4 separate regions of the Homo sapiens genome follow, and all the other regions are linked to region 3. The links come from fine-mapping of genetic effects on gene expression. A gene starts in region 3. Each other region holds a variant in brackets. All regions are shown on one strand. Distances are from middle to middle.

Region 1 (7,490 bases), 33 kb before region 3:
GTTTCACCATGTTGGCCAGGCTGGTCTCGAACTCCTGACCTCAAGTTATCTGCCCACCTTGGCCTCCCAAAGTGCTGGGATTACAGGTGTGAGCCAGCGTGCCTGGCTGATTATCACACCAAGTTTTAAATGGGCTGTGGACACTGGGGAAGGCTTTGTGGAAGAAGGGGCAGGGGAGAGGGGCTGGGTGGGTGGTTTGAGAGGGTGAGGAGGGGTTGCATTAAGGCACATGGCCAAGAGAGTGGTGCATTCTCGGAGTGGGGAGGATTCAATATGGTGGATGAGATGGGGCTGGGAAGGGAGGCAGGGGCCAGGCCTTGGAGGGCCTTGTGGGCCCTGCAAAGGGATTTGGGCTTTGTGCAATGACCTCCCAGAGTGGGTGTCTACAGTAGAGCCTTGACGTGCACTCTGGTCAAATCTGGACTGAAAAGCCAAGTCCCCGCCCTCCCAAAGACGGAGATATGTTAATAGCAGGAAGATCTTTCGGTATATTTACATGCTGGAGAGTAAATATTTTCAAAGATCCCTCACAGCATCTCAGGATATCCTTCTGACCGATGCCAAGTATTCACCTGAGGATATGAGGCATACCATGTCCACCTAGCTCTTCTGGAGCCGAGGAGCAACCGGGCTTCAGCCAAGATCTTTGAGATTGAGCCTGGGGACTTCCTCCCCATTCCCTGTCTCCTTCAGCTTTGCAGTGGCTTGTAGTGTTTCTTTACCATGAGGTGCACATTTCTGAGCCTATATCCCTTGGGTTCTGGATGAGTTTGCTTTGGTAACAAATGACCACAAACTGGGGGATTAAAACAGTGGAAATGGATTATTTCAGTTCTGTAAACCAGAAGTCCGCAATCAAGGTGTCAGCAGGGACTCACGCCTCCAAAGGCTCAAGGGGAGGGTTCTTCCTTGCCTCTTCCAGTTTCTGGTGATCCCGGGTGCTCCTTCATGTGGCAGCATCACTCTGATCTCTGCCTTCATAGGCCATCTTCACTGTGGTTCTCAAATCTCCCTCTCCTTTCTCTTATAAAGACATCAGGGGCAGAGCACGGTGGCTCATGCCTATAATCCCAGCACTTTGGGAGGCCAAGGTGGGAGGATTGCTTGAACTCGGGAGTTTGAGACCAGCCTGGGCAACATGGTGAAACCCCGTCTCTGCTAAAAACAGACAAAATTAGCCAGGCATGGCGTCACACGCCTGTATCCCAGCTACTCAGGAGACTGAGATGGGAGGATAGCTTGAGTCCAGGAGGTTGAGGCTGCACTGAGCTATGATCACACCACTGAACTCCAGCCTGGGTGACAGAGAGAAACCTTGTCTCAAAAAAAAAAGAAAGAAAAGAAAAGAAAAAAGAAGGACACCAGTCATTAGATTTAGGACCCGCCCTAAATCCAGGACGACTGTCAAGACCCTTAACTTAATTAGATCTGCAAAGACCCCTTTCTCAAATGTTTCCAAGTTTCCCATTCATAGGTTCTGGGGTTTAGAACGTGGACATAGCTTGTTTAGGGCCACCATTCAACCCACTATAGTTTCAAAAAGGTGGAAAACATCCTTTGTCTTCAGTTTCTCAGGACTGACTGAAATTGTTTTGAACTCCATATAGTAGACGAAAAGGAACCTGGTTTTATGGGGGACAAGTCTTCCTGCCTTTAGTTAAAGAGGGACAGGACAAAGGCTGAAACCACAGGCAAAGCTATTGTTGGTGTTTTGCAAACTTCAGCCCCCAAGATCACCATCTTTGTGACATTTGCTATTCCTGCTTCCCACTTACATTATTACTTAATATTGTATTTAACTACGCACAAATTATTAACTTAGCCTCAACCGAGAATAATATCCTTCATGTCCCTGGTTTTCAAATGCAAGATACATTTTTCTCCCAGAATACACAAAACAGGGCATGATGGTGTGGTTCAACAACTGGACTAGCTTGGAGGGTGACTTCAAACAGGTTTTGTGAGGTCTTGTAATGACATCGATCCTCCCTGAAGTGGCATCTTCCTCTCTTATCTTGCTGTAAGAAGGGCTCAGCTGTGGTTTAGATGTCTGTTCCCTCCCAAACAACTCATGATGAAGTGTATTCCTATTGTAACAGTATCAAGAGGTGGGACTTTTAAGAGGTGATTAGGGCAAGAGGACTCTGTGGATTAATCCTGTTATCACCAGAGTGGGTTTGTCTTCTCGGGAGTGGGTTCCTTATAAAAGGACGAGTTTGACCCATGTTTACTTCTCTCTCGTTCTCATCCTCTCTTTACTGTTCTACCATGTGGCGCCTTCTGCTGTGCTATCATGCAGCAAGAAGGCCCTTGCCAGATGCTGGCCTTTAGCTCTTGGACCTCCCAGCCTCAGAACTGTGAGCCAATACATTTCTGTTAATTACGTTACCCAGTCTGTGGTGTTCTGTTATAGCAGCACAAAATGGAGTAAGACAGCTTCCTGGGTTGTCAGGAGGGCATTGGAGCCGCAGGGCACAGCCCAGCCCAGGCCAGCACTGCTGGAACATCACTCACTGCAGATGAAGGTGGAGTGACAGGGACTGGCTGCTCTCCTGCTGAGGTAACTGGAGTCTCAAACCTCCTCTCCCATCTTCACAGCCCACACAGCTGTTTTCTCAGAAGCAGAGAATCTTACTCTGCAAGTTCACATTAGAATCCCTGTGTCCCAGGTTTTGCCTAGTGGCTGTGCTGGAGCTTAATCTTTGCTTCTCCAATAGTTAGTTGTGCAGTTGGTGCCTGAGGTCTACTCACGCAGGTCTGTGGGGGAAGTGGGGAAAAGGCCCTCAGGGTACAAATAAAATCATTTAGGAAGTGGGGGTGGAGGAAAGGACTAATCCCTGGAAGTGGCATCCTGCTACATACATGTCAATAGGATAAACTTCAAAATGCTTTTCTCTTAAAACCTCTCTGCGCCAGGAACAGTGGTGCACACCTGTAGTCCTAGCTCCTTGGGAGGCTGAGGTAGAAAGACTGTTTGAGCCCAAGCAGTTCGAGGCCGTGGTGCACTATGCTCATGCCTGTGAATAGCCACTGCACTCCAGTGGGCAACATGGCGAGACCTGTCTCTAAAACAACAACAACAAAAACCTGCCACATACCACTGGTATCCTAACTCGCCATACTTTGGAGAACACTGTGTTAGAGCAAAGATGTGGTCATCAGGAGAATTTACCTTGGTGGAGGGCATGGTGGTGAGTCTTCAAGAACTATGTCTTGTCAGAAGACACAGTCCTCCAAGCCAGAAAGCTAGGCATCACCCTCAGCCCTCTCCTCTTCCTGAATCCCCCAAATGCCTCAGAAATAAATCTTAGTTTGCACATTTAGGTGGATAATAGATTGAACGGCTTTGTTTAGAAGAGCACCTGGATGGAAGTTGGTGCTCAATGGACATCAGCTGTGGGTATGAGAACACGATCTCTGCATCACAATGCTGGCGGGCTTGCCCACTTCCTTCCAGATTCAGTGCCTCTTCAGGGCAAGGATGTGTCCTTTGCATCTCTCTTGTGGGCAGCCTCTGAGATGGTCCCCAGTGATCCCACCTTTGGGTATTCCCACTCTGTGTAATCCCCTCCCCTTGAGTGTGGGCTGGACTTAGTGACTCACTTCTGAAGAACTGAATGTGACAAAAGTGACGGAGTGTCACTTCTCAGATTAGGTTACCTCCCAGTAAACTCTCTCTATTCTTGTATGCTTGCTCTGAGAAAGCTGCTGTCATGTCCTGGCTTTATCAGAGGCCCCCTAGAGAGGCCCACATGGCAGAGAAATGAGAGAAGTCTGTGGTCAGCAGCCAGTGAGGAACTGAGGCCCTTAGACCCATAGCAGGTGAGGAACTGAATCCTGCCACCAACCACAAGAGG[G/T]AGCCTCAATGTGGATCCACTCTTAGTTGAACCTTCAGATGAGACCACAGCTGAACTCCTTGTAGCCTTAGCAGAGGTCTTAAGACAGAGGCACCCAGTTAAACTAAGCCCAGATTTATGACCCACAGGTACTGTAAGATAATAAATGTTTGTTGTCTTAAGCTTCTAAGTTTTGGGGTATTTTGTCATGCAGCAAATAGATAATACAGTTCCTTTCCCCAATGCCCCACACAGGGCTTGGCTTATTTTAGAGTCTTCTAACTATTGGGAAGAGGCCCAGCAGGTTTGAGTTACTCCCTTTTTTCCCTTCCCACATGGTGGCTGGATTTATGTCCACCTTCAGTTTGCTGCTATGTCCATTAGCGTTCTCTGTAAAAATGTAATGGGCTAGAAACATGGATAAAACTTATGGTGGAACTTCAGCCTTTAGTACAGATCACGGCCACACTCCCCTGGGTCTGGACATGACAAATTTCCCACTGGGGAACCAGACAACATGGAGTTCAGATGAGCCTGGCATAGTCTCATTCTATGCATTCTGAGGCTCAGTTGGAGGAGCACCAAGCCCAGGGTCTTGTAGCCCCAGACCCACCCAAGGGATGATTTGCCCTCTGAACTTTTCTCTGAGTCTTTCTAGAACCTTTGGGCTAAAATAAATTTTATTTCCCAAAAGCTTGGCTTGATCTATCTGTTTTCAAATACAGCTCTTGTTAGAGAGTAGCATTTTGGCTGTGTGTGTATGCATGCGTGCATGTGTGCACATGTACTTAATTTCTTTTAACTTTATTTTTAGTAAAAAAGACACAAAAATAACCCATGTTTGTAAAAACAAAATACATGTATATAACATAAAGGGCAAAGTCTCATCAATTCCATTCCCCCAATTCCATGCCCTGGGGTTAATCAAGGTTAACCATGTGGTATGTAACTTTCCACCTATAAACACATACCTTAGAGCTGCCATTTATAAGTTATGTGATGATGAGCAAATTACCAGGAGTGGTGAAGAGCCTGGGGGATAAATTCTTAGACTATAAAGCCAAACTTCTCAGGTTCAAAGCCTGGCTCTATCCCTCACAACTTATGTGACCTTGGGAGAGTTACCTGGCCCCCTTGCCTACTCCCTCCTTAGTTTACCCATCTATGAAGTGGGGCCTCACGTGAGTGGAGGGATATTTACTGAGCTAATGTATCTAAAATGTTTAGGACAGTTGGCTATCACCATCTCGATCCTCTGAGATCTCCCATTTTGCTTGAGCCTGTTTTTTCTTTTTTTGAGATGGGGTCTTGCTCTGACACCCAGTCTGGAGTGCAGTGGTGTACTCATGGGTCACTGCAATTTCAGCTTCCCACATTGAGCTTGGTTCTGAAGTCAGGCTTTCCACAAAATTCTTCCCTGATATCATCCTTCTTCCTGGGTTCTCACTACCCAGGTGTTTAGATATAGGAGATGGTCCCAGTGTTCCTGTCTCTAAGTCCTGGTCCTACTGAAACGTTTCAGTAGCTTGAGCCTTGGAAATGATGGGGAAGCAGGTTTAACTAACTGAGTCTTAGTTAATTAAGGCTTTACTATGTATGGTAGCTTTAGAATAAAGTTGGATTTTAATCATTACCACTCAGCCACTTAAAATCTCCAAATCCTTCCCATGGGAAACCAATTCAAGATCCACTTCAACCAGGCATCTAGTAATCAATAGAGACTGATTGCCTTATTAATTTGTACACTGAACTTTACTTGGCTTTATTTCCGCTGCCTTTAATCACTGATGAAAGAATAGTTTCTTCTTCCATGTTTTATACCCTTTCCATTCATCCCATCAATATTTTCCTGTCAACACAGAAGTCATCACTGAATGCCAGATAGGCCTGACAAGAGTGTGTGCCCATGTGGGGACAGAGATCGGTGCTGTCCCCAAGACTCCGAGGCACCTGACATCACCCAACTCCATAGGTCTCTTTCAATCTAAGGGGCTGATCTTGCCCCCTAAAATTCCAGTTTAGATATTAAAACTTAGCGTTGTCCCTTGTGATTTTAACAGAGGGTTAAAATTCACAAAACTGTCAGAGTGATTCATCAGTCTGTTTATCAGTAACTAGTGTTAGAAAAGCAAATTCCTGCTGACACCTGCTTGGGGCCACTGTACCACACTGCCATGTAAGAAACAGCACAGTCTGGAAGGCCTCCCTGGTTGAAGCTGGGATCCACTGCCTGCTTCCAATATCAGCAGCACCACCGTTTGCCCGGCGCATGCATTGGTTGAGCAGCAGAAGTGGGTTTGAACTGGCAGTCACCTGAGATGCAACAGGCTTTAATCTAAGAGCACATTTACTTAGCATCTAGAAGGCTCAGACAGGAAACACAGCATCATCATCCCGTTGGGAAGACCACCTCCCAGGCACATAGCCATAGCTCCTTTTGCCCTTCCCCATTCAGGGGACACATGGCTGCTGCAGCCGACAGCCAAGATGTGTGTTGTGTGTGGATCACTGATGCACAGACCCATAAGCTTGGTTACCTACTGATATTTCCATCACAGTCACTCACATAGGGCCAAGGTATGGCCACCTACTCCCAGCTCCCTTAGTTTAGATGAGTCTAAAATTAAAAAAATTTTTTTTTTAAAATAATTATTTGTTTTAAATAACATGAGAATGGGTCTCACTATGTTGCCCAGGCTGGTCTCAAACTCCTGGCTCAAGTGATCCTCCTACCTCGGCCTCCCAAAGTGCTGGGATTACAGGTGTGAGCCACTGCACCTGGCCACACATGAGGGTTTCACAGCAAGCAAGGGCAAGGGCACACACTACATCTCACTTTTTTTTTTTTTTTTTTTTTTTTTTGAGACGGAGTCTCCCTCTGTTGCCCAGGCTGGAGTGCAGCGGCATGATCTCGGCTCATTGCAACCTCGACCTGCTCGGTTTAAGCGATTCTTGTGCCTCAGCCTCCTGAGTAGCTGGGATTACAGCTGTGCACCACCACGCCCGGCTAATTTTTGTATTTTTGGTAGAGATGGGGTTTCACCATGTTGGCCAGGCTGGTCTTGAACTCCTGACCGCAAATGATCCTCCCACATTGGCCTCCCAAAGTGCTGGGATAACAGGCTTGAGCCACCGCGCCCGGCCTACATCTCACTTTTATCTGGACTCTATACTGAAGAGCATGAACTCTGAGGCTGTGTCCCTGGCAGCATTTCTCCCCCAACTGGCAGCCCGTGGAAGTGGAGTGGAGCTGGGATCAGCAGGATAAAGCATGACTTTTCTTTTTTGCTTGTTTTATTTTAAGTTCTGGGATACATGTGCAGAATGTGCAGGTTTGTTACATAGGTATATGTGTGCCATGGTGGTTTGCTGCACCTATCAACCCGTCATCTAGGTTTTAAGCCCTGCATGCATTAGGTATTTGTCCTAACGCTCTCCCTCCTCGTCCCCCATCCCCCAAAAGGCCCCGGTGTGTGATGTTCTCCTCCCTATGTCCTTGTGTTCTCATTGTTCAACTCCCACTTATGAGTAAGAACAAAAGCATGACTTTTCTCTCTCTCTGAGGGTTGCCCAGGTCCTCCAAAATCATGCTCGTGTACAACACGGAACCTGAAATTGAAGTCAGGCTTTTTCCATTTGACTTTTCAGATTTGC
Region 2 (7,490 bases), 43 kb before region 3:
AGTGGCGCTATCTTGGCTCACTGCAACCTCTGCCTCCCCGGTTCAAGCGATTCTTGTGTCTCAGCCTCCCGAGAAGCTGGGATTACAGACGTGTACCACCATACCCAGCTAGTTTTTGTATGTTAAGTAGAAATGGGGTTTTGCCATATTGGCCAGGCTGGTCTCGAAATCCTGGTCTCAAGTGATCTTCCCACCTTGGCCTCCCAAAGTGCTGGGAATGCAGGTATGATCTACTGTGCCCAGCCTAAGAAGCTAATTTCTGATAATAAGTGCTTTAGGGAAATGCAAAATAAGATGATGTTCCTGGGATCAGGGTGGGTACACCAGCCATGATGCTCAGGGAGTTGTCCACAAGGCTGTGACATTTAATCTGAGGCCTGAATGCTAAGAGGAAGGCTTCTATGGGATTATCTTGTGCTTGTTCTCATGCATTTTGGCCCTCGTGCTAGGCTCCTAGAAGACCCAAGGGCTGCCTCCAGCTTTCCTCCTCTGAACATCTCAGGTAATATGGGGAAAGCATGAGAAAGTGAGCCAGGCCCAACAGGCAGCTGCTGCATCTGACACGTCACACACATGTCAGGGCTTTGTTCTGCTGCCATTGTGATGACTGGGACCGCCAGCATTGCCAGCCCAAAGGATGCACGGCAGTGCAGTCCCCCTTCTGGCTCAAGATGTAGTGAAATGACAGGGGAGCTGGGTCATACTGCCACCCCCATGCTCTGCAGGACTTCCTAAAGGCAGAAAGTGAACAACAGACAATTCTCATGCTCAACATGTCAGTGGTGCCGAGCTTGAGAAACCCTGCCTGAGTTAATGTGTATGTAGTTCCAAGAATATAGAAGGAGCTTAGTACATCCTGGGTCCCTTCCTCCTGTGGCTAGAGATACCCTGCCTATTTACCCCAATTCTTCTTGACAATACATGGCTGTGGTATCTCCAGGGATCAGTTGGAGTGTAGCTCCCTCATCGAGACTGATGGAAAAAATAGCTAAACATGTACTTCTTTTCTGAGTTCTTTGATGACTTGACTTCTGACAGTGCTTGGCATGCAGTAGGAGTTCTAGGAATACGTATCAATTTCACTGCATGAAAAGGACAGCAGGATGCTGAGGAAGGACATCTTGGAGAGCTCTTGGGGAGCTCTTGGGGAGCTCTTGGCCCTGAGGCGCTGTCCAGGAACTCTGTGCTGAAACTTTACAGAGGAGGAGAAAACCCCAAAAATGTGGCACATATACACCATGGAATACTATGCAGCCATAAAAAAGAATGAGATCATGTCCTTTTCAGGGACATGGATGAAGCTAGAAGCCATCATTCCCAGCAAACTAACACAGGAACACAAAGCCAAACACCACGTGTTCTCACTCATAAGTGGGAGTTGAGCTGTGAGAACACATGGACACAGGGAGGGGAACATCACACACAGGGGCTTGTCAGGGGATTGGGGGGCAAGGGGAGGGAGATCATTAGGACAAATACCTAATGCACGCGGGGCTTAAGACTTAGATGACGAGTTGATAGGTGCAGCAAACCACTATGGCACATGTATACCTATGTAACAAACCTGCACATTCTGCACATGTATCCCAGAACTTAAAATAAAATAACAAAATAATAAAGAAAATAAAAATTTAAAATAAATAAATAAAACAACTTTATTAATTTTATTAACATAAAAATTTTGTTAAAAGAAAACCTGAACTGAGATTGAACTCTTCCCCACTGAGAAAGCAAGCCCAGGCATCCTTTCTCCCTCTCGTCCTCATCTCTCCTCCCTACAGACAATGGAAGATGAAAATCAGGAGACAGAGCCGGGCGCGGTGGCTCAGGCCTGTAATCCCAGCACTTTTGGGGGCTGAGGTGGGTAGATCAACTGAGGTCAGGAGTTCGAGACCAGCCTGGCTAACATAGTGAAACCCTGTCTCTACTAAAAATACAAAAAACAAAAAAATTAGCTGGGCATGGTGGCAGGTGCCTGTAATCCTAGCTACTAGGGAGGCTGAGGCAGGAGAATCATTTGAATACGAGAGGCGGAGGTTGCAGTGAGCCGAGATGGTACCATTGCACTACAGCCTGGGCAACAAGAACAAAACTCCATCTCAAAGAAAAAAAAAAAAAAAGAAAGAAAGAAAGAAAGAAAAGAAAATCAGGAGACAGCATGGCAGAATGGTTATATCCTCAAACTCTGGAGTTAAAGAGAGTTGGGCTCATATTCTGGCTGTGACGATAAAGAATTACATGACTTTACATAGATGACTTCACTTCTGAGCCTCAGTCCCATCTGTAAAATGGGATGATGATCATAATGTCTGCATCTCAGAGATTTCATGAGTGTTAAGTGGGAGAAGTGCCTTAGAGCACGTAGCAGGCAGTGGCTGGCATGTAGTAAGCACTCAGCAAATATTAGCTATGACCATAAATGTTTTCATAATCATCACTCTTGTAGTTTGGGTTCTCCTAGAAATAGATTCTGAGACAAAGATTTGAGTGCTTTATTTGGGAGGTGATCTCAGGATGATTCCAGGAGATATTGGTGGGTCGATAATAAGGTGTGGGTTATCTAGCAAATAATCACTGTGGGTGACTGCAGCTCCGTTCCATTGGGGAACACTGGGAGCCGGCACAGAACAGTCACTTTAGGATTATCCCACCGTGGAGCAAGGAAGCTGGGGTATTTATACACCAACTACTCCCCGTCATTGGCCAAGAACTGCTTGCTCAGGATGTCAACTCCCCAGCACTTCTGGCCACCTGTCCCTTTCAGGTTGAGCAGACTCTCAGGCAACCAAAGAACACCCTCAGGGTGAGTCTCAGATGATAGAGGCAGGTGAACTTGCAAAGAAATGGAAAATGCTGCACAGATATTGGCTTTTCCTCCTGCACCATCACCTGTGGCCACAGCTAAGGTTCTAAATGCCTCTCTGCTGGGCTATCATAGTCTGTGCTCACTTCTGTAATAGCATTTGTCAACTTCATTAATTCATTCAGTCATTAATTCTGTAGCTCATTCGCACCCTCAGGTATTCATCCATTTACTCACTTATACTTCCACACTTAACTGCTGACTAAATGCTACATGCAGGCCTCAGGCTCCTAAATGGTCTATTCCAGGGGTGTCTCCGCCTGGCCAGGAAGCTCCTTGGGGAGAAGCCCTGGGCCCGATTGGTCTTCTGGTGCCAGGTATTCAGCACAGCGTCTGGCACACAGCAGGGCTCAGGATGTGTTTAATGGAGCTGAAGCAAATTAGAGCCCAGAGTAGGGTTTTTCTCTTCTACAAACTGAGCGTGCTGTGAAGATCCAGGCTTTCTTCAAGCTGGGTACTTGTTAACCAGATGTTTCAAATACCTGTCCTACGAGAAAAGTCTTTGTGAAATGAATCTTGGGAATCCTGGAAGTTTTCAGACACGAAGTGTATGCAAACGCTCAGTCTCCTGCTGAATTCAGAGGCAGCAGAGGGAGGGGCTTTGCCTGGAAGGTGCCAGGCTGTATGCTGGGTCCCAGAGGCAGCTCCTGACTTGGAGTCACCAGGGTTCAAGGTCAGACCCACCGTTCCTTCTCAGGCATTTGTCTCTCTCAGCCTCAGCTATTTTTGTTTTATTTTGTTTTGAGAGAGCGTCTCACTCTCATCACCCAGGCTGCAGTGCGGTCTTGGCTCACTGCAGCCTCGATCTCCTTAACTCAAGTGATTCTCCCACTTCAGACTCTTGAGCAGCTAGGTCTACAGATGTGCACCACTATGCCTGTTTATTATTATTACTTTTTTTGTATTTTTAGTAGATACGGGGTTTCACCATGTTGCCCAGGCTGGTCTCAAACTCCTTAGAGGATACCGTGGAAACTCCTGCCCTAGAGTCAGGCCCATCAGGGCTCCCACCC[A/G]GCTTTCTCGCTCACAGACTGTGGGATCCCTAGTGAGTCCCTCCTCCCCAGGGACCCTCAGTTTCTGTGCCTTTAAAGCAGGGTGATACAGTGAGACGTGCCAGACAACCAAGCAGGTGAGATGATTTTCATTCTGATTTCCTGAGCACCTGGCTCAGGTGCGGGCTGCTCTAGGGCCCTGGATAAGGATCTTTGCATGAAAGACCTCAATGTCACATGAACACACATGGATCACTTGAGATGGGTCCTGGGAAAGAGCTTTAGAGTGGGCTAGACGTGGTGGCTCATGCCTGTCATCCCAGCACTTTGGAAGGCTGAGGTGGGAAGATCACTTGAGCCCAGGAGTTTGATACCAGCCCAGGCAACATAAGGAGACCCCATCTTTACAAAAATACAAAAAATAAATAAATTAGCCTGGTGTGGTGGTATGTGCCTAGGTCCTAGCTACTCAGGAGGCCAAGGTGGGAGCACTGCTTGAGCCTGAGAGGCTGAGGCTGTAGTGAGCCGTGATAGCATCACTGCACTCCAGGCTGGGTGGCAGAGCAAGACCCCATCTCAAAAAAAAAATACATAAATAAAATGTAGGCTGGGCGTGGTGGCTCACACTGTAATCCCAACACTTTGGGAGGCTGGGGCAGGTGGATCACCTGAGGTCAGGAGTTCGAGACCAGCCTGGCCAACATGGTGAAACCCTGTCTCTACTAAAAATACAAAAATTAGCTGGGCATGGTGTCACAGGTGAACAGACAGGTGAACTTGCAAAGAAATAGAAAATGCTTGCAAAGAAATAGAAAATGTCTGTGGTTCCACTTACTTGGGAGCCTGAGGCAGGAGAATCGCTTGAGTCCAGGAGCCGGAGGATGCAGTGAGCCGACATCACGCCATTGCACTTCAGCCTGGGAAACAGAGCGAGACTCCATCTAAAAAAAAAAAAAAAATTAAAAAACTTAGAATGCACAAGTGTAAGGAAAGAGGAAAGATCATTGCCTAGCCCAGTGGTTATTAACTGGGGCCATCTAGCCACAGCTGGAGACAGTTTTGGTTGTCATGACTGTGGTCGGGGGTGGGAGACAGGGAGGTGCTCCTGGCATCCGGTGGGTAGAGGCCGAGGGGACTGCTGAATGCTCTACAATGCATAGGACAGTCTCCTATGACATGGGATTACTGAGCCCAACACGTTGGCAGTGCTGAGACTGAGAAACCTCACTCTAGTGTAACTCCTCTAGTCTGACAAATGAAACCCAGAAAGGTCTAAGATGATCCAAGATGTGATCAGCAGACTGACCTTGGGCAAGCTTTAATTTCTCCAAGCCTCAGTTGCTTCATCTGTAAAATGGATGTAAGAATAATAGTACTTACCCCACAGGGCTGTGAAGAGGTTTAAAAGGGATACAGAGTCAGGGCTGGGAAAACACAGGCAGAAAAATAGGAGGAGTGGGAGGACCTCCCCCAGCCTCCAGGTGGGGCCCCCACCTGGGTGGGGCCCCCTCTTGATTTTAGCTCTGAACTCTTCCCCAGGTGACCCTCCCACTGGAACATCCAGGTATGTGTTGTCATAGAAACCTTTCAGGGACGGTGCACTCGAGAGCTTGACTGATTTTTTTTCTCCCCAAAATAACCCACCCTGTCAGTCAAGTAACACTTAGGCGAAGTGGTTAGGCAAGTGAGACTGTTTTACCATCATTAACTGTTGAGCAGGACGCCTACTTGGGGAATTTCCATTCTCCCAAGACACACAGTTAATAGAAATGCAACAGAGATTAATAATAATAGGGAGATGATGATGATGATGGCTTGGCTACCTTTTTTTTTTTTTTTTTTTGAGACGGAGTTTTGCTCTTGTCACCCAGGCTGGAGTGCAGTGGTGCAATCTTGGCTCACTGTAACCTCTGCCTCCCGGGTTCAAGTGATTCTCCTACCTCAGCCTCCCAAGTAGCTGATTATAGGCGCCTGCCATCATGCCCGGCTAATTTTTGTATTTTTAGTAGAGACGGGGTTTCACCATGTTGGCCAGGCTGGTCTCGAACTCCTGACCTCAGGTGATCCACCCGCTTCAGCCTCCCAAAGTGCTGGGGTTACAGGTGTGAGCCACCACGCCTGGTGATGGCTACCATTGCTTGAGCTTTTCTTCCTTGCCCTGTTATATGTTAGGTGCTTGACAGACATTACCAAGTCCAACTTTGAGAAGTAAGTACTAGTAGTGTGCGCATTTTACAGACCAGGATTCTGAGGCTCAGAGAGGTGAGTGTTCGGGCTGGTTTGAGTTCAGATGCCAGGTGCCATGTTCTAACCATCAAGCTTTATTGCCTCTGAGGAACCTCCAGTGGAAAGGGGTGCTGGGGGAAGGCTCTGTTCCTTTTGTCCCTGTCTCCAGGACCCAAACCATCAGCTTCATGCTCTTTCTTGGTGAGCTCTGAAGCTGGAAACTCCACCACCAGTCCATGCATCCCACTGTGAAGGTTGTCACCTTCCTGGTCTAGAAGAAACGCTCCAAAGAAACACCCCCAAGAAACGCTCCCACATGGCTCTAACAGCAGTTGTTTCCTGAAGCCTGAGGCAGGCAGAATAAGACTGTCATCATGTCCCAGCCCTGGCATGTCAAACCCTTCAATCCATCCAAAGACAATGGCACAGCATAAGCTCCAATCCACAAGGCTCCTGGATTCCTTCAGACAAACAATATTCACCCTGGGCAGGGGTCATGGAAAGAGCTCTGGGTTTCCAATGGAAAGACAGAACCGGTGTTAGATCCCACCTCTTGTTACTTCTTTGCTATTTTTATTTTTAGAGACAGAGTCTCGCTCTATTGCCCAGGCGGGAGTGCAGTGGTGCAGTCACAGTTCACTGTAACCTCAAACTCCTGGGCTCAAACAATTCTCTTGCCTTGGCCTCCTGAGTAGCTGGGACTACGGACACGTGCCACTGCACCCAGCTGATTGTTTTTCTTTTGGTAGAGACAGTCTTGGTATGTTGTCCAGGCTGGTCTTGAACTCCTGGACTCAAGTGATCTTCCCACCTCTGTCTCTCAAAGTATTGGGATTATAGGCGTGAGCCACCATGCCAAGCCCATTCTTGCTACTTCTGAGTCCTGTGACCTCAGACAGCCTCTGTAAAGATTCGAGCCTTAGCTTACGTGTCCCTAAAATGGGTACAGGAGGCTGGGCACAGTGGCTCATGCCTGTAATTCCAGCATTTTGAGAGGCCAAAGTGGGAGGATTGCTTGAGGCCGGGAGTTCGAAATCATCCTGGTCAATATAGTGAGACCCTGTCTCTACAAAAATATAATAATAATAGTGATAAAATAAAATAGAATAAAATAATATGAGTACAAAGTTGTTGGGCAGATAAATGAGATCAATTTTAAGTTCTTTTTTTTTTTTTTTTGAGACGGAGTCTCGCTGTGTCGCCCAGGCTGGAGTGCAGTGGCTCAATCTCGGCTCACTGCAAGCTCAGCCTCCTGGGTTCACGCCATTCTCCTCCTCAGCCTCCGCAGTAGCTGGGACTACAGGCGCCCGCCACCACGCCCGGCTAATATTTTGTGTTTTTAGTAGAGACGGGGTTTCACCATTTTAGCCAGGATGGTCTCGATCTCCTGACCTCGTGATCTGCCCGCC
Region 3 (7,490 bases):
GGAGTTTGCTTAATGAAAGTGGGGGGACAGCAGCTTGCCTGTAATCCCAGGGACTCAAGAGGCTAAGGTGGGAGGGTTGCTTCAGGCCTGGAGTTCAAAACCAGCCTGGGCTAGCAAGACTCCAGCTCTACAAAATAAAAACCAGCCAGGTGTGGTGATGTGAGCCTGTAGTCTCAGCTACTCTGGAGGCAGGGGAAGGAAGATCACTTGAGTCCAGGAGTTTGAGGCTGCAGTGAGCCATGACTGTGCCACTGCACTCCAGACTGGGTGACAGAGTGAGATTGTCTTTAAGAAAAGCAAAAACAAAAGCAAAACAAACCCCCACATACAAAAATTGCAGAGTACAAGGTTTTTAAAAAATCATAAAGAAAAAAAGGGCACTTAAAAAGTGGTCTGAGGATAACAGTTACGTAATCCAGTCTTCCCAATATTTTCCCCAAAAAGATGAGTATGAGAAAGCAGAAAACAAAATAGGATCCGCAGGGCACCTGGGCCCAGGACCTTACCTGGCTGCCCCACGCTGTTCAGCCGTACCATGAGATGTCTATGGTTCGGGGTATAGAGGTGGACATCTGACAGCACAGTGTCGCTCCTAAAGGTGACCTCGTCCATGGCTGCCGCAGGAGCCAGCTGTACCATGGCCCAGGCTCCACCTTAGTCCTAGGACAGGAGTCCCTCAGAGGTGAGAATGGGTCCTCAGCATGGCAGGTCCCAGAGGAGATACTGCAGACAGGTCCAAGCTGGTAGCGAGTAGCTTTGCATCGCCCTGGGAGAAGATCTCAGAGACTTGGCCAGGGAAGAGAATCCAGCTGGAAATTAATGCGTTATTTTGTTTATATTCATTTCACTCATTATATTCATTTTATATTCATTCATATATTCATTATATTCATTTTCATAGTAACCTTTTATTTATAGAAAGGGATATGAATTTCCATTTATAAAGTTTCCTTTCCCTTTTTTTTCAACTTATTACAAAAAAATTTCAAACAGTAAGGATACAGGGGAATATCATAACCGTAGAACTACTGCTTAGATTCAATGATCCTCACCATTTTGCCACACGTGCCTGCCCTCTCTGGTTTCTTCTCCTTGAGCTGAGAGTACATTGTAGACATCATGACATTTTGCCCCTAAATTATTTAATGTCTGTCCCCTAAGAGCATTTCCCTATATAATCATAAGACCATTAGCAAATCTAAGTTAATTAATAATTCCCTAATAGCATTAAAGTCAATTTCCTCCATCTGTCTCCCAAAGGTCTTTGAGGTTTTTTTTCCCCCAGAAACCAGTATCCAATCACAATCTGCACTTTGCATTTAGTTGTTATGGCCCTTTACTCTTTCTTTTTTATTCTAGAAGCTGTTATCAACTGTCCCCACATCATTTGTTGTTATAAAGCTTTCCTATTTTAAACAATGTTTTATTTTTAAACATTTCTTTTTACAGACAGGGGCTTGCTCTGTTGCCCAGGCTGGAGTGCAGTGGTACAATCATGGCTCACTGCAGCCTCAAACTTCACGCGATCCTCCTGCCTCAACCTCCTTCATAGTTAGGACTACAGCTATGCCACCATACTTGGCATTAAATTTTTTTTTTTTGTAGAGACAAGGGTCTCACTATGTTTCCCAGGCTGGTCTCAAATTCTTGGGCTCAAGCCATCCTCCCATATCAGCTTCCTAAAGTGCTGGGATTACAGGCGTGAGCCATCATGCCTGGCTTAAAGCTCTGCTACTGAATTTAAAAAGATGAGTGGAATTAGGCGGGTGTCGTGGCGCGCGCTGGTAGTCCCAGCTACTTGGGAGGCTGAGGTGGGAGGATCGCTTGACACCAAAAGGCAGGGGTTGCAGTGAGCTGAGAATGCGTCACTGCACTCTGCACTCCAGGCTGGGTGGCAGAGCAAGACCCTGTCTCAAAAAGAAATTAAAAAAAAAAAAAAAAGAGTGAGTGGATTTAAAGGAAAAGTAGTAAGGGAGTCACTACACTGGTGATACACAGATATGGCAAAATTATGCAGGTGACACATTAATAACTAAAACTTGGAAAACCATGGCTGAGGCAAAGTGGTCAAGAACAGGTGGGACCTCCCTCCAACCGTTTCACCTAATCAAAAAGCATCATCAAACAGCAGTAGTCTGATGGGCTTTGAAGCTGGACAGACCAGGTGGGGATCCCTGGTTTCTCACCTTCTAGCCATGTGATTTCAGGAAAATCACTTCGCCTCTCTGCATCTGTTTCTTCAGCCACAATCTCACGCAGTGTTACTGGGTGGGTAAACTGCTGAGCAGAGTCCTTGGCTCACAGTAGGTGTTAATAAAACACCAGCAACCTCCTTGTCCTGGGGTTGGTTTCAGGTATTTGACCCAAACCTGCCTGTAACCCCTGACTGCCTATAGGAGCTGTTCCTACCTGGGTAGATGTCATGAAATCTTCAGGGCCCCCACTTCTTCAACTGCAAAATGAGGTCATCATGACTCAGGCTGTCCTAATGATCCCAGTACACTGCTGGAGTTCCTACATTTAAGTGGTTGCTGTGGGGCAGCAAAAGCTGTCCCAACAAAAAAATTTTTAAGAAAAAGATGATTCCTTATTCATCTCCATGCTAGCTTTCCTACTCAACACCATAAAGCCATCAAAATGCAAGTGGGTTGTAAAGAAAGTCTGTGAATCTGGCAAATCAATGCAGAATTTCATGGTGTCATTGAAAGTGATGGAGAAATGCTGGACCTGAAGGCCAACACTCAATCAATCGGACTGGCAAAACCACACCAGATTCCAGAAGAGAAAATACAGCTTATACCTACCACTCATTTCAAAGGCAGATCAAGCTCTCTCAGGACTTAGAGATGTCCTGGGGGAAAACTGAGGACTTTCACATACAGTTTTTTTTGAAGGGGGTGGGGAAGATCCTCTCTAATATTGCTGTAAAAATCAAAAGTGAACCAAAGGATGCCATTTCTTTTTTTGCCATAGCGCATTTTTTTTTTTTTTTCTGAGACAGAGTCTCACTCTGTTGCCCAGGCTAGAGTGCAGTGGTGCCATCTCGGCTCACTACAACCTCCGCCTCCTGGGCTCAAGTGATCCTACCTCAGAGTCCCGAGTAACTGGGACTACAGGCATGCACCACAATGTCCACCTAATTTTTGTATTTTTAGTAAAGATGGGGTTTTGCCATGTTGGCCAGGCTAGTCTTGAACTCCTGACCAAGGTAGATCCATCTACCTTGGCCTCCCAAAGTGCTGGGATTATAGGTGTGAGCCACCAGGCATGGCCTATAGCGCAATTTTGTTGGAAAACTTACATCCCAGAAAAATCAATGTTCTTTGCTTTTTCCAAAAGTGAGCATAATATTACACACCAAATTTTAAGTATAGACACACACAAAAAAACTCAAATTCTTAATCTCTAGTTGAATTTTCCATTTTTAAATTCAACCCAACCAGGCTTCCCAAGAAATGTACGCTGCAATGTAAGTTCCAGATGAAGGAGATTCCCTTTAAGTGGCTTTCCCTAGAATCAGCTATCTGGGAATAAGGAGGCCCTCTTGAACCTATCTCAGGCCCTCATATACTCAGAGGAGTATATGAGACAATTACCACTTTTCGGGCTTACGACATATAGTAAACGTTCAATAAGCAACAATAGTAAATACTATCATTATAGTAATATAATAATGATTAAAGTGAATGCTGGGAAGAAAGAAAAAAGGTAACAGTTTCTCTAGTCAGGAAAAGTCTCTTTCCGGAAATGCAGGGTCTGTATGGGCTTCGGGCTCCTCTCTTTACTGGGCAGAGCTGAGAAAGGAGACCCAGGTTGCAGATGGGGACCTGCCCCACCACCTCTCCATAGGGCTGCAGGCTCATCCCTGCAGCAGGAGCTAACGTGTTCTTGGCTCTTCTAAGGCTGTGGGGGCTAGACTGAGACGCTACCAGCTTTCTTCTCCTATAGGTCCCCAGTCAGTTGTCCCAAATAAGCAGTGTGCTGGGATCACGGTGTTGAAATAACTTCCCTCCTCATCTTTCTTTCTGATAACTGCAACTCACTCAACAATCAATAATTTGGCGCGATCCCATGACGATTTAGGCCAGGAGCTGGGGAGGGCAGGGTGTGAAGGCCCAGGCTGGGGGCAGGAAAGACGTGGCCTGGCCACGGTGCGTAGAGTGGTAGTGAGGGGCTCCGGGGACGTCCCCCGTGGGGCTACTCGTTCTCTTTGTCTTGTCGCCTTCCTGACGCCACCCTTGTGGGTTAACTATTGCCCTCTCAAAAAACAGTCACAGGTCGGGCACTGCCCTCCCTTCCTAATCTAGAACCGAAGGAGAGGTGCCTGGACCCAGGATGGAAACCCAGGTGAGGACGTGGACTTCTTTCCCCAACACCCGTGTTGAGAAGGGGAAACTGACGCTAAGAGTGGGGTCGGGCCTTAGGGATCTGGGCCTCCGATCTGTGGGAGCTCGGATTTCAAAGTCAGGCTCGGCGCCAGGAGGTTCCCTGCACCCTACCCTATCCCGCCGCCTCTCCCAGGCACTTACCCGCCGCGGGGCCCAGCCTGGGATCCCACCCGACTCCCGTCTCTGTGGGACTTAGGCGGCCGCCATAACAGGCGGTCTGCGCAGGCGCGGCCCCGCCCCCGCGTGCGACCATCCGACTGCCCCGCACCGTGGCTCCACCTACCTGCCCGGGCCGCGCATGCGTCCGAGGGTTGCCGGCGGGCACCTGTAGCCTTCGCTCTGGTCGCGGGCGAGGCGTGTTTGCTGGGGGGACCCGCCTAGGTGGCTAAACTCATTCCTCTAAAAGACTTAAATAGGAGTTAAATAACTCTCCCAGCTACTAAGTGGTAAAGCCTGGATTCGAACCCGGGGTGTGGGATCAGAGCCGGTGCTATTTAACCAGCATGCTACTGTATTTATTATCACGGGTGTTACCGTCATCCATGCTCTTAGTACTCGTTTGTTTGTTTGTTTGTTTATTTGAGATGGTCTTGCTCTGTCACCCAGGCTGGAGTGCAGCGGCGCAATTTTAGCTCACTGCAGCCTTGAACTCCTGGGCTTAAGGAATCCTGTTTCAGCCTCTCTAGTAGCTGGGACTACAGTTGCGTGGCACCATTTTTTTTTTTTTTTGTACAGACTGTATCTTGTTGTGTTGCCCAGGCTGGTCTCAAACTCCTGGCTTCAAGCAGTCCTCCTGCTTCGGCCTCCTAAAGCTCATAAATTACAGGCATGAGCCACCACGCCCAGCCAGTACTTGTTATTATTAATAGGTGGTAGTGATTTCATTAGGTGGTAGTGATTTCGTTAATTCGTATGCTCATCAAGTTTCCAACACCAAGGGGGTGAGACAGAGTGGCAAACATAAGACTCCATGTTTGCTCGTTTTTTCTTGCCTGCAGAATTTCAGAAAGCCTCTGAGTCCGTGACTGAGCACAGCCCTCAGAAGAATCCCCTGAAGAGGATGAGCAGGATAGACCACAGATTCTCACGTCTCTTGCCTGAGTCACTGCATTTTTAGAAAAAGTACAGTCAATAATATTGGCCCTTTTCTCAATCTATATATTCAGTGACATCATGGAAGTCAGCCTGGCCACAATGGAGTAAGCCAGGGGATGGGCCGCAGGAAACGAGGATACATAGGTAGCCAGGGTTAGAACTTTTGTGACATTCTAAGAACTTTGGATTTTACTGTGCGTGAGATGGGGAGCTGCCAGGGATATACACCACACTGACGTGTTCACAGACATGCCCAGACACACACAGTGGTGCTCACTCTCAGACATGTCAGTGAACATACAAATATACACACAGGAACATATGTAAAGTCCACATATGTAAAATCTATATCCCTGTGTGTTCACATATACACACACGCACACACATGGCCTCAGCTGGCAACCTTTGTCTAAATTACTTTTTTTTCTCTTTTCAAAATAGAATTAAATCAACATCAATTTCATGGTTACTGATGATAAAACGTGGAGAGTTGATAGGGTGACTAAGCGACACAAATAAGAATTTTTTTTTTTTTTTTTTTTAAGAAACAGATTATGTTTCCTGAAATCCCCCAGGACAGTACACAGAGAGCCAGTTGGGTGTCTTGGGACCAGATTCTATTCATAGTTTTCTCTCTAGTTCGCTGAGGGTTCTCTTAGTTATCCCCAGAGGATGTTGAGTGGTGGGGAGGGCACTAGGAAGGCATTGTTCACACCCTTGGGAGTTTTGTCTTCAAATTTAAACCGGGGGAATGACCCTTAAAAATCAAAAGATCACATTCCTCCTCTTGTCAAACCTATAATCTTTTATAGGGGATTAGTGCCCCTACAAAAGAGGCCCCAAAGAGCTGCCTCACTTCTTCTGTCATGTGAGGACACGGCAAAAAGACAGCCATCTATGACCAAGAATTGGACACAGAATCTGCCAGTGCCTTGATTTTGGACTTTCCAGCCCCTAGAACCATGAGAAATGAATGTGTTTATCAGCCACCCCATGTATGGTATTCTGTTATAGCAGCCCAGATGGCCCCAAAAGGGTTATCATTTCTGCCACAAATTTTGAGGTGGTTTGCAACACAGTAATAGGTCACCAGGTAAGGGGAAAGAAAGCCAGCCCTTCTTGGCAGGGCTGCAAAGAGATGGTAGCTGGGGGAGTGCGGGAGGGGGCCCTCAGTTCCGGAGCCTCAGTTATAAACAAGGCACACTGCTGGCCCCTTCATCTTGTGGTTTTGTTTCATTCTCACACCCATTCCGAAGCTCAGAGAGGTGAAGTGCCTTGCTCAGTGTTACCTAGCCAGTGAGACGCAGACTCACGTTTTCTTTTCTTTTCTTTTTTCTTTTTGACAGAGTCTCCATTTGTCGACCAGGCTGGAGTGCAGTGACGCCATCTCAGCTCACTGCAACCTCTGCCTCCCTGGATCAAGCAATTCTCCTGCCTCAGTCTCCTGAGTAGCTGGGATTACAGGCGTGTGCCACCACATCCAGCTAATTTTTGTATTTTTAGTAGAGACGGGGTTTCACCATGTTGGCCAGGCTGGTCTCAAACTCCTGACCTCACGTGATCTGCCCGCCTTGGCCTCCCAAAGTGCTGGGATTACAGGCATGAGCCACCACACTTGGCCTCAGACTCACATTTTCAAAATGTCCCAGTGAGTCTGCTGGGTGGAGCCTTAGGGTTAAATGCCCTCCCTAGTGTCCCAGGCAGGTCTTTTGCTTTGAGAGTCTCCCCCAGACTTGGCGAAGCAAGGGTTAAGGTGCATGCTCACACACGCTGGAGTGTCCATCACTCCCACCACCTGGACTAATGACAAACCATGTCTGCAGCAGAGGGAAGGCGGATGAACTGCCAGATGTGTATTAAGAAACCAGCTTGCAGGAAATTGCTGTCGGGTGATTATTATTAGCTGGGTTATTCAGAACAGCCCTTTCTCCAAAGGTCGTGCATTTACCAAATGCTTGATGTGTTTTCCCAGTCAGCCCCAGAAAATTTTGTCCTCCTGGAGAGAGA
Region 4 (7,490 bases), 20 kb before region 3:
GTTTATTCCAAACGTACCTGATTTGGGTGATAAAGAGTTAAAATTAAATACAAAGGCCAATGCCAGTCCATTCCTGGCGCCAGCTCCTGCCTCTTCCTTCTCATGGGGCCCTCACCAGAGTGATGGGGTGGAGCATACCCAACCCTGGGAGGAAATGAGGCTTTTGTGCCGAGCGGCAATATGATGGCAATACTGGCAGTGGTAGTCAACCCATCTGTAAACAGCTGACAGAGGGCAGTACAAGAATCCACCTCACAGCCAGGGCCGCAACCGCAAGTAAAGCACACAGCTGAAATGACTGACGTGGGTGGAACTGAGCTGAGAAGGAACGTGGCTCGGCTTGACCCTGGAGCACACATCACAACCATGAGAAACAGGCAACTAAAGTGACCTCCAGCCCACAGCAACAACCTTCTCTGGCTACAACTGGGAGGCAGGGACAGACCCCAGAAAACCATCTTGGGTCATCTAAGGTACGTGTAACCATATTTTTAAAATGACAAAATCTCAAGCATGTTGCTTTGGTGAGCTTCTGATTTTACTAGAAATACACTCTAAGAACAGTCGAGACGCCGCGCCTTGTGGAGGCGATGGGTCATGTTACTGGTTCTGCGATGATCTTCCAGAGCTCCTGCAGCAAACAGAGAAAAGAACAGGTTTCTGAAGTGCACATACAAGAGCATCACAATTTCATTAAGGAAAGTGATTCACCAAGGAGAGTAGTTAGACAACACGTCAGCCACGGAGCAGGCGAGCTGGGGCAGGAGCGGACGGGCGGCTTCCTCCTTTCTTTGTTGCTCTGGGCTGTTCTATTTTACTGTGGCAGAGAGGCTGGATGGATGAAGTCCCAGCATTAACGGAAGGTGCATCAGAGGATGTCAAACAATCAGAAGAGACCAGAATAGCAGTGAGTTGCCGTATCTCTCCATTTTGGGGGAGATCTTTATAAACAATTTTATTTTAGAGACAGGATCTCATTCTGTTGCCCAGTCTGGAGTGCAGTGGCACCATCACAGCTTGCTGCAGCCTTGAACTTCTGGGCTCAAGCAATCCTCCCACCTCAGCTTCCAGAGTAGCTGGGACCACAGGTGTGCACCACCATGCATGGCTAATTTTTTTTCTTGATTTTTGTCGAGATAGGGTCTGTGATGCCCAGGCTGGTCTCGAACTCCTAGCTTCAAGCAACCCTCCGACCATGGCCTCCCAGAGTGCTGGGATTACAGGTGGGAGCCACCGTACCTGGCCTTTTTGGGACGTCTTAGGCATCATGTATTGGGGCTGCTGACTTGTAAGAAATGTGTGTTCTTGGTCATGTGACGCTACTCTTAATGCTGCCCAGAAGTGGCAGAGCAATAAATACAAGATCCTCCTCGCACACAAAACCACACGAATTCCATGCTGCCCTCCCTCAGGACGCGAGACAGAGTGCAAGGGCGGCAGCTCCTCGTGACTCCCTCTTCCTCCCTTTTTCCTTAGAACTAGGCCCGGGTCTCCACAGACATAGAGAAAGGGAGGCCACAGCCAAAAGGCAAACAGAACAAAAGAAGTTAATTCTCAATCTTTGGACTCCAGTTAATAGAAAAGCCAGTTCAGTCCGAGAGGGGCTGGTATCCTTCCACAGTGAAGATGTGAGCAGCGGCCACCACAGCGGGGCGCCTGCACCAAGATCTGCAACCCACAAACTTCCCTCCACTGACTTCCTGTTCCCCAAACAACCTCTGCCTCGGTCTTGCCTCCTCTGGAGTCTGAACTGTCCAACGGGGGGAATATGTGCTATAAAGTAAAAGACAAGGTTCGCCTGTAGGCCCGTCTCCAGACATGGTGGCTGCTAAGAACAGGATGTAGCTCCCCCAACAGGTTCCACTACAGATGGTGCCAGGCACGCAGGCTTCACCCCCTGCAGGACTAGGGTGGAGCCTGTGCTTGGAGGGCTTGCTTCATCACCTCTTTGCCCTGGAGTCACCCGCTTCACAGTAAAGCAACCAACGGCCCTGCTTCGGGGCCTGGACCTACCAGTTGCTGGAGGCGCTCGTAAACCAGGAGCTGTGGGAAGGAGGCCTCCACGGGCTCCACCACGAAGCGCAGCTTGCCATCTGCGAGCTGCTCCAGCGCGTGCAGGCAGGAGCGGAAGTGATCGTAGGCTTCACATGTGACGTCCAAGTGTCTCAATGTGAAGTTGAGCCTGCAAACCAGCCAGTCGGACGCACAAACTGCCATCATCAATGGGAAGGGTTTTGCTGTTTCTGCCCACCTTGCTTTCCTATCCCTCACTGATCTCATATCCCCTGGACGGGCTTTTACTGAGCGCCTGTCTCATGCTGAGTGTGTGAGTGCAATTCCTTCCTACATCTGCACGACAGCCCAGGAGGTGGAAGTGGATAGCACTTTACAGATGTGGAAACAGGCTCAGAAAGCTCAGGTCACGTGCCCACAATGACACTGCTGGAAAGATCAAGACAGTCCTGCAGATCAACACTTGAGGACGCCCTCCAGGTCCTGCCTGCACCCAGCACAGAATCTGGTGCCTGGAGCTGCGCATAACTATCTGAGAAATGAATGAATGAGAGGCAGTGGCAGGGGGCGGTGCAGAGGACTCCGGGAGCACAGAGAACAGAGAGAAAACTGCTGGGAAGCTGGGGTCTGAGAGATTTCAGAGAGTGAGCACCTTCAGAAACAGGTCTCCCAACCCTGCCACTTGCCTTTCAAAACCTTAGTCTACAAGATGGTTTCACTTGAAATTAAAGCTCTTTGCCTTTTTCCCTTTTCTTTCCAAATTTTTTTATCAAGAAAAATTCCAGACATGCAACAGGAGTAAGAACAGTCTATGCTGGGCGTGGTGGCTCCCACCTGTAATCTCAGTACTGTGGGAGGCCGAGGAGGGCAGATCACCTGAGGTCAGGAGTTTGAGACCAGCCTGGACGACATGGTGAAACCCCGTTTCTACTAAAAATACAAAAATTAGCCAGGTGTGGTGACGCATGCCTGTAATCCCAGCTACTTGGGAGGCTGAGACAGGAGAATGGTGTGAACCCGGGAGGTGG[C/A]GCTTGTGCTGAGCCGAGATCGCACCATCACACTCCAGCCTGGGCTGACAGGGCAAGACTCTGCCTCAAAAAAACAAAAAAAACAAAACTGTCTAATGAACCCATTACCAGCTTCAGCCACTGTCCACTTCCAGCCACTCTGCCACCTTGGCTCTTCCCGGGGCCCCCTGCCCTCACTGAGTTATTAAAAAGCAAATGCCAGACACCAACCCATTTCCTCTGTGAAGCTGGAAATGTCAGTGTGTGTCTCAAGAAGATGAAGACCTCTTCAACTAAAGTTTAACAATCACCCTTTAACATCAAATATTCAGTATTCAACTTTTCCCAACTGTCCTGATGTTTTTCCTTTACAGTTTATGAAATCAGGATCCAAATGAGGTCTGTACATTGCTATTGCTCAGTGTGTGCCTCAAAGCAAGCCCTCGGTATTATTGGTATAAGTAACACTGCAATAAATATGCAAGTACATACAGCTTTGTACACAACCCTGAGTGTGAATTTCCAGATGCTGAATTGCTGGGTGAAGAAGTCTGTTTCGTTTTACAGCTTTTGCTGTGGATTCCGAACGATCTTCAGAAAAGCTGTGGACTACTGTTAAGTATTACAGGAGAATGTGTGTAGCTATCACAAGGTGGGCACTCAATAAATGGAACCTAACATTTCAGGATATTCTAGTGGAAATGTCTGGGTGAGGCTGTTGGGTGAGGAGCTGTCCGATTCAGCAAGAGAAAGAGACCTGGGGGAGCTGAAGAGACAGACGGCACCACAGAGAGAACATTCAGGAAGAGAAGCTCTCAACAGTGTGTGCTGGCCAAGCGTTGAGGTTCCAGTACAGTCTGCATTCAAGTCCTTGTCTATCACTAACTAGCCGTGCCCTGGCCAAGGCCCCTGATGCTTCCCAGCCTTCCTCTCTTCATCAGTCAAGTGGGACAGCAGCGCCTGCACACAGGGCTAGGATGCAGATTCAGTGCAGTAACGTACACAAAGGATGAGCACAGACCTGGCACATAGTAGGTGCTCAATAAGTGGCACTGAGTAACAATCATAATGACACTGACAAGGACACAATTAGGAGGTGAGAGTTCCGCTGACACTCGGGACGTCAGCACGGTTCCCGTGGCGCAAAGCTCACCTCTTCTCCACCGACAGTATGGCTGTGCAGGCATTTTTCAATCTGTGGGCGAGTCGGGAGAGCGTTTTAAACACAGCATCAGTCAAGTCGTCGTCGTAAAACACTGTGGGAAGCAAAAAGGCCAGCATTAGAGGAAAACACGCAAATATTACAGAAATCGACTTTTCAGAGCAATCCGCACAGAGAGAATGCTTATCACCACGGAACAGCAGCAGCTTCCAGAATTAAAACTGCAGATGTGGTGGCATGTACCAGAAAGTCACTTCTAAAACTGAACTCCCGGGGGAAGTGAGGAGAGACTGCACTTGACTTCATGCTACAACAAAGGACGTGTACGGCGAAGGAGAAATTTTCTTACCTTCGGCTGCAAACAGGATGGTGGTGTGATCGTACAAGTCAGAAATTTCCTCTTGTGACCAACTGAAGGGGACCTTGGGATCTAAGAAAGAACAAAAGCACACTTTGTGCCCATTGCCTTCTCTCCTGGCCACCAACTCTCACTGGGACTGACCAAAAGGCACTTCAAGAGAAGAAACAGGGCTGGGGGTAGCTCGGTGCAGTGGGCACCACCAGGCAGACCAGACTCCCTGCTTCAGGCCCACTGCTGCCCGGGTGCAGAGTCATGGTGGAAGAGGTGCCTTTTCTGCTGAGTGTCTGCTCTAGCCAGTGAGCAGCGGGCGGATTTCAGCCTCACCCGCTGCCTTGGCCTGTGGCCCAGTGCAGGACATGATCTCCCCCTTCTGCCTGCTGGGTGGCCCAGGAAAACAGCCTCAGTTTTGCACTCACAGAAAGGGCACAGTACTACTTCCTCACAGGACTATTGGGAGGGCCGAAGGGCCTACGGTGCGCAAAGTGCTAGGCAGGTGACCAGTACTCAAGGAACGACTTTTCCCATCTGCCATCTGACAGGGAAAAAAAAAAAGACATCTTTATACAAAGAAAGAGCAAGCACCCAGGTCTGAAGTAGTCTGTGTAAGAAATATGGAAACTGTCCTACCCGGGGGGTTTCCTGGCACCACTGTTTGTTGGGAAATGGTCTGTGCCCCAGAGTCTGACAAACTCGGGTCTATGCCCCTACCCTGCTGTGTACCAGCTGTGCCCATGGGCAGTCTGCACTCACAATTCAGGGATTATCATGCTACCACACAGGGAAACCACAACACCTGGAGAAGAAAATGAACGTGAGGTGCCCAGCATGCAGCAGGCGCTCAGAGAATGACAGCTGGTGCTCATCGGCCAATGGAGAGAAGCTGCCATGCGCCGATGGGACTGTGGCAGCAGCTGGGACTACAGCTCTGTCAAAACCACAGAGCCAGGGGCACTGAGGTATTACAAAGGAATCACTGAATCATACTGGGGGACGTCCGAGAGAAACACACACCTGTGCAGAGGTCGTCCTTCAGCCAGTCCAGTTCTTTGACCCTAACTATACCACCTGTAAAAACAAACAAAAAGAGAACTTTCCAAACTCTAAACATCATCAGGAAAAAAAGATAAACTTTTACACTATATATGAAGATCCATCTATCCACCCACCCACCCTTGCTCTCACCCATCCACCTTCCTGCCCTTCCATCTTTACAGCCAGCCAGCCAGCCAGCCAGCCAGCCATCCACCCACCCATCCATCCATCCATCCATCCATCCATCCATCCATCCATCCATCCATCCATTCACCCACCCACCCACCTGCCCATCTTCCGGCCCTTCCTTCTATCCATCCATCCATCCATCCATCTACCCACCCACCCACCCACCTATCTTCCTTCCCTCCCTGCCTCCCTCCCATCCATCTTCTCATCCTTCCTTCTAGCCATCCATCGATCCATCCATCCATCCACCCACCCCCCCACCCATCTTCCTGCCCTTCCATCTATCCATCCATCCATCCACCCACCCATCTTCCTTCCCTCCCTCCCTCCCATCCACCCATCTTTCCATCCATCCATCCATCCATCCTCTCATCTACCCATCTATCCATCCTTCTGCCCTCCCACCCATCCACCCACCCATCCTTATTATCCTCCTTCCCTCCTCATCCATCATCCATTTTCTGTCCCTTCCCTCCATCCATCCGTCCATTCTTCCAGCATTTTTTGAGTGCTACGTGTCAGGGACGGTGCCAGACATAGGGAAAATAAAGATTTAAGAGTCATGCTCCCCATCCTTGCAGACCAGCTCCCCTAGGAGAGACTGGCAGGTTAACCAACAACGGCAAGACTGTGTGGCTGGGTGATGCCAGAAGGATGAGGCAAACGCACAGGAGGAGAGAGAGGAACTCATGTCAGACAGCGGATGTCAGGGAAGGCTTCCACCAGCATGCTCCCTCCATCCTCCCAGCTCTGCTGACTGCCTACTGTACCCTGAGCACTCAACAAACATTGTGACAGTGCAGAGCAAATGCAGACAGGGTACCTGCACCCACAGAGCTTGTAGTCCGGTGGGAATGGAAAACACCAATAACTAGTCACACGAGCAGATGGTAAAATGCAATCATGCAACGTGTGCCTGGAGTCTGTTGGGGGCTCTGGCCTCAAATCTGGAGGTCTGAAGCCCCGAGGGTGATGAGGACTTGCCGGGAGGAGGGACGGCAGAGCACTCAGGCAGAGGGAAGAGCAAGGGCAAAGGACTCGAGGGAATGTGATTTGAAAGACGGTGAGGTCGGCTGTTGGTGGTGGGGGGCGCTGCAGACAGACAGGGGCCAGATCCCCAAGAACATGAGACAAGCAACAGTAAACCACTGAAGGGCCTGAAGCCTGGGGGGCTGCTCGGAGGAGGCGTTAGGACATAACTGTCGTCACCCATCACATACACTCATCCCTGCAGGCCGTGCAGGGAGCAGAGAACCAGGCAGATGGAGGCGGAGGCCCATCTGCGCAGGGGGACTGGCCTGTGAGTGAGTCCTGGCCGTGCTGGATGCAGGGCTGGAAAGGAGACTGTCAGGAGGAGGCAAGGAGAGCAGGCCGGGGCTGGGCCAGGGAGGCCTGGGAATTCAAGGAGCTCAGACTTCACCCCACAGGTGATGACGCCCCTGGGAGGTTTTCAGCAGCAAGTGAAGTGGACTGGCTTGCATCTGAGAAAGGGCACTCTGGATGTTTCATGAGGACATCTTGGACGGGTCAACTAAGGAGCTGGGGAGACCAGCTCAGGGGCCGCCGCCAGTGTCCGGGAGAGAAAGAGCTGGAGTAGGATGACGCAGTGGATCTGGGAATGAGGAGGTGACCCAAGGAGCGTCCTCAATGCTCTGAAGCTCTGTGATGCCCAGACGACGCCTGCTCCCCTTACTCACCTGCTGCAAGGGACACAGACGGAGCCCTG

What was found. PIP is the estimated chance that this variant, and not a neighbour inherited with it, causes the effect.
Region 1: its variant is fine-mapped to the expression of METTL22 in platelets (CEDAR, PIP 0.95).
Region 2: its variant is fine-mapped to the expression of METTL22 in cerebral cortex (GTEx, PIP 0.96).
Region 4: its variant is fine-mapped to the expression of METTL22 in thyroid (GTEx, PIP above 0.99). The same link has a PIP of 0.9 or more in esophagus muscle, gastroesophageal junction, tibial artery and visceral fat.

The regions. Positions count from the first base shown.
Region 1 is chr16:8,651,667-8,659,156 of GRCh38, reverse strand. It overlaps a transcript of METTL22 not described here. Among named protein-coding and RNA genes, the nearest start is that of ABAT, 19 kb to the left of the region's middle. The variant G/T (reference allele first, on the strand shown) is at 3,858.
Region 2 is chr16:8,661,415-8,668,904 of GRCh38, reverse strand. It overlaps a transcript of METTL22 not described here. Among named protein-coding and RNA genes, the nearest start is that of ABAT, 9.5 kb to the left of the region's middle. The variant A/G (reference allele first, on the strand shown) is at 3,877.
Region 3 is chr16:8,618,815-8,626,304 of GRCh38, reverse strand. METTL22 (methyltransferase 22, Kin17 lysine) reads right to left here and starts at 4,607. Exons shown (of 11, transcript NM_024109.4): 1 at 4,530-4,607; 2 at 507-809. The coding sequence starts at 639.
Region 4 is chr16:8,639,249-8,646,738 of GRCh38, reverse strand. It overlaps METTL22 (methyltransferase 22, Kin17 lysine), which reads right to left. Exons shown (of 11, transcript NM_024109.4): 7 at 5,555-5,608; 8 at 4,532-4,612; 9 at 4,174-4,276; 10 at 2,014-2,182; 11 at 1-631. The coding sequence ends at 596. Among named protein-coding and RNA genes, the nearest start is that of METTL22, 21 kb to the right of the region's middle. RefSeq lists an enhancer at 7,076-7,490. The variant C/A (reference allele first, on the strand shown) is at 3,042.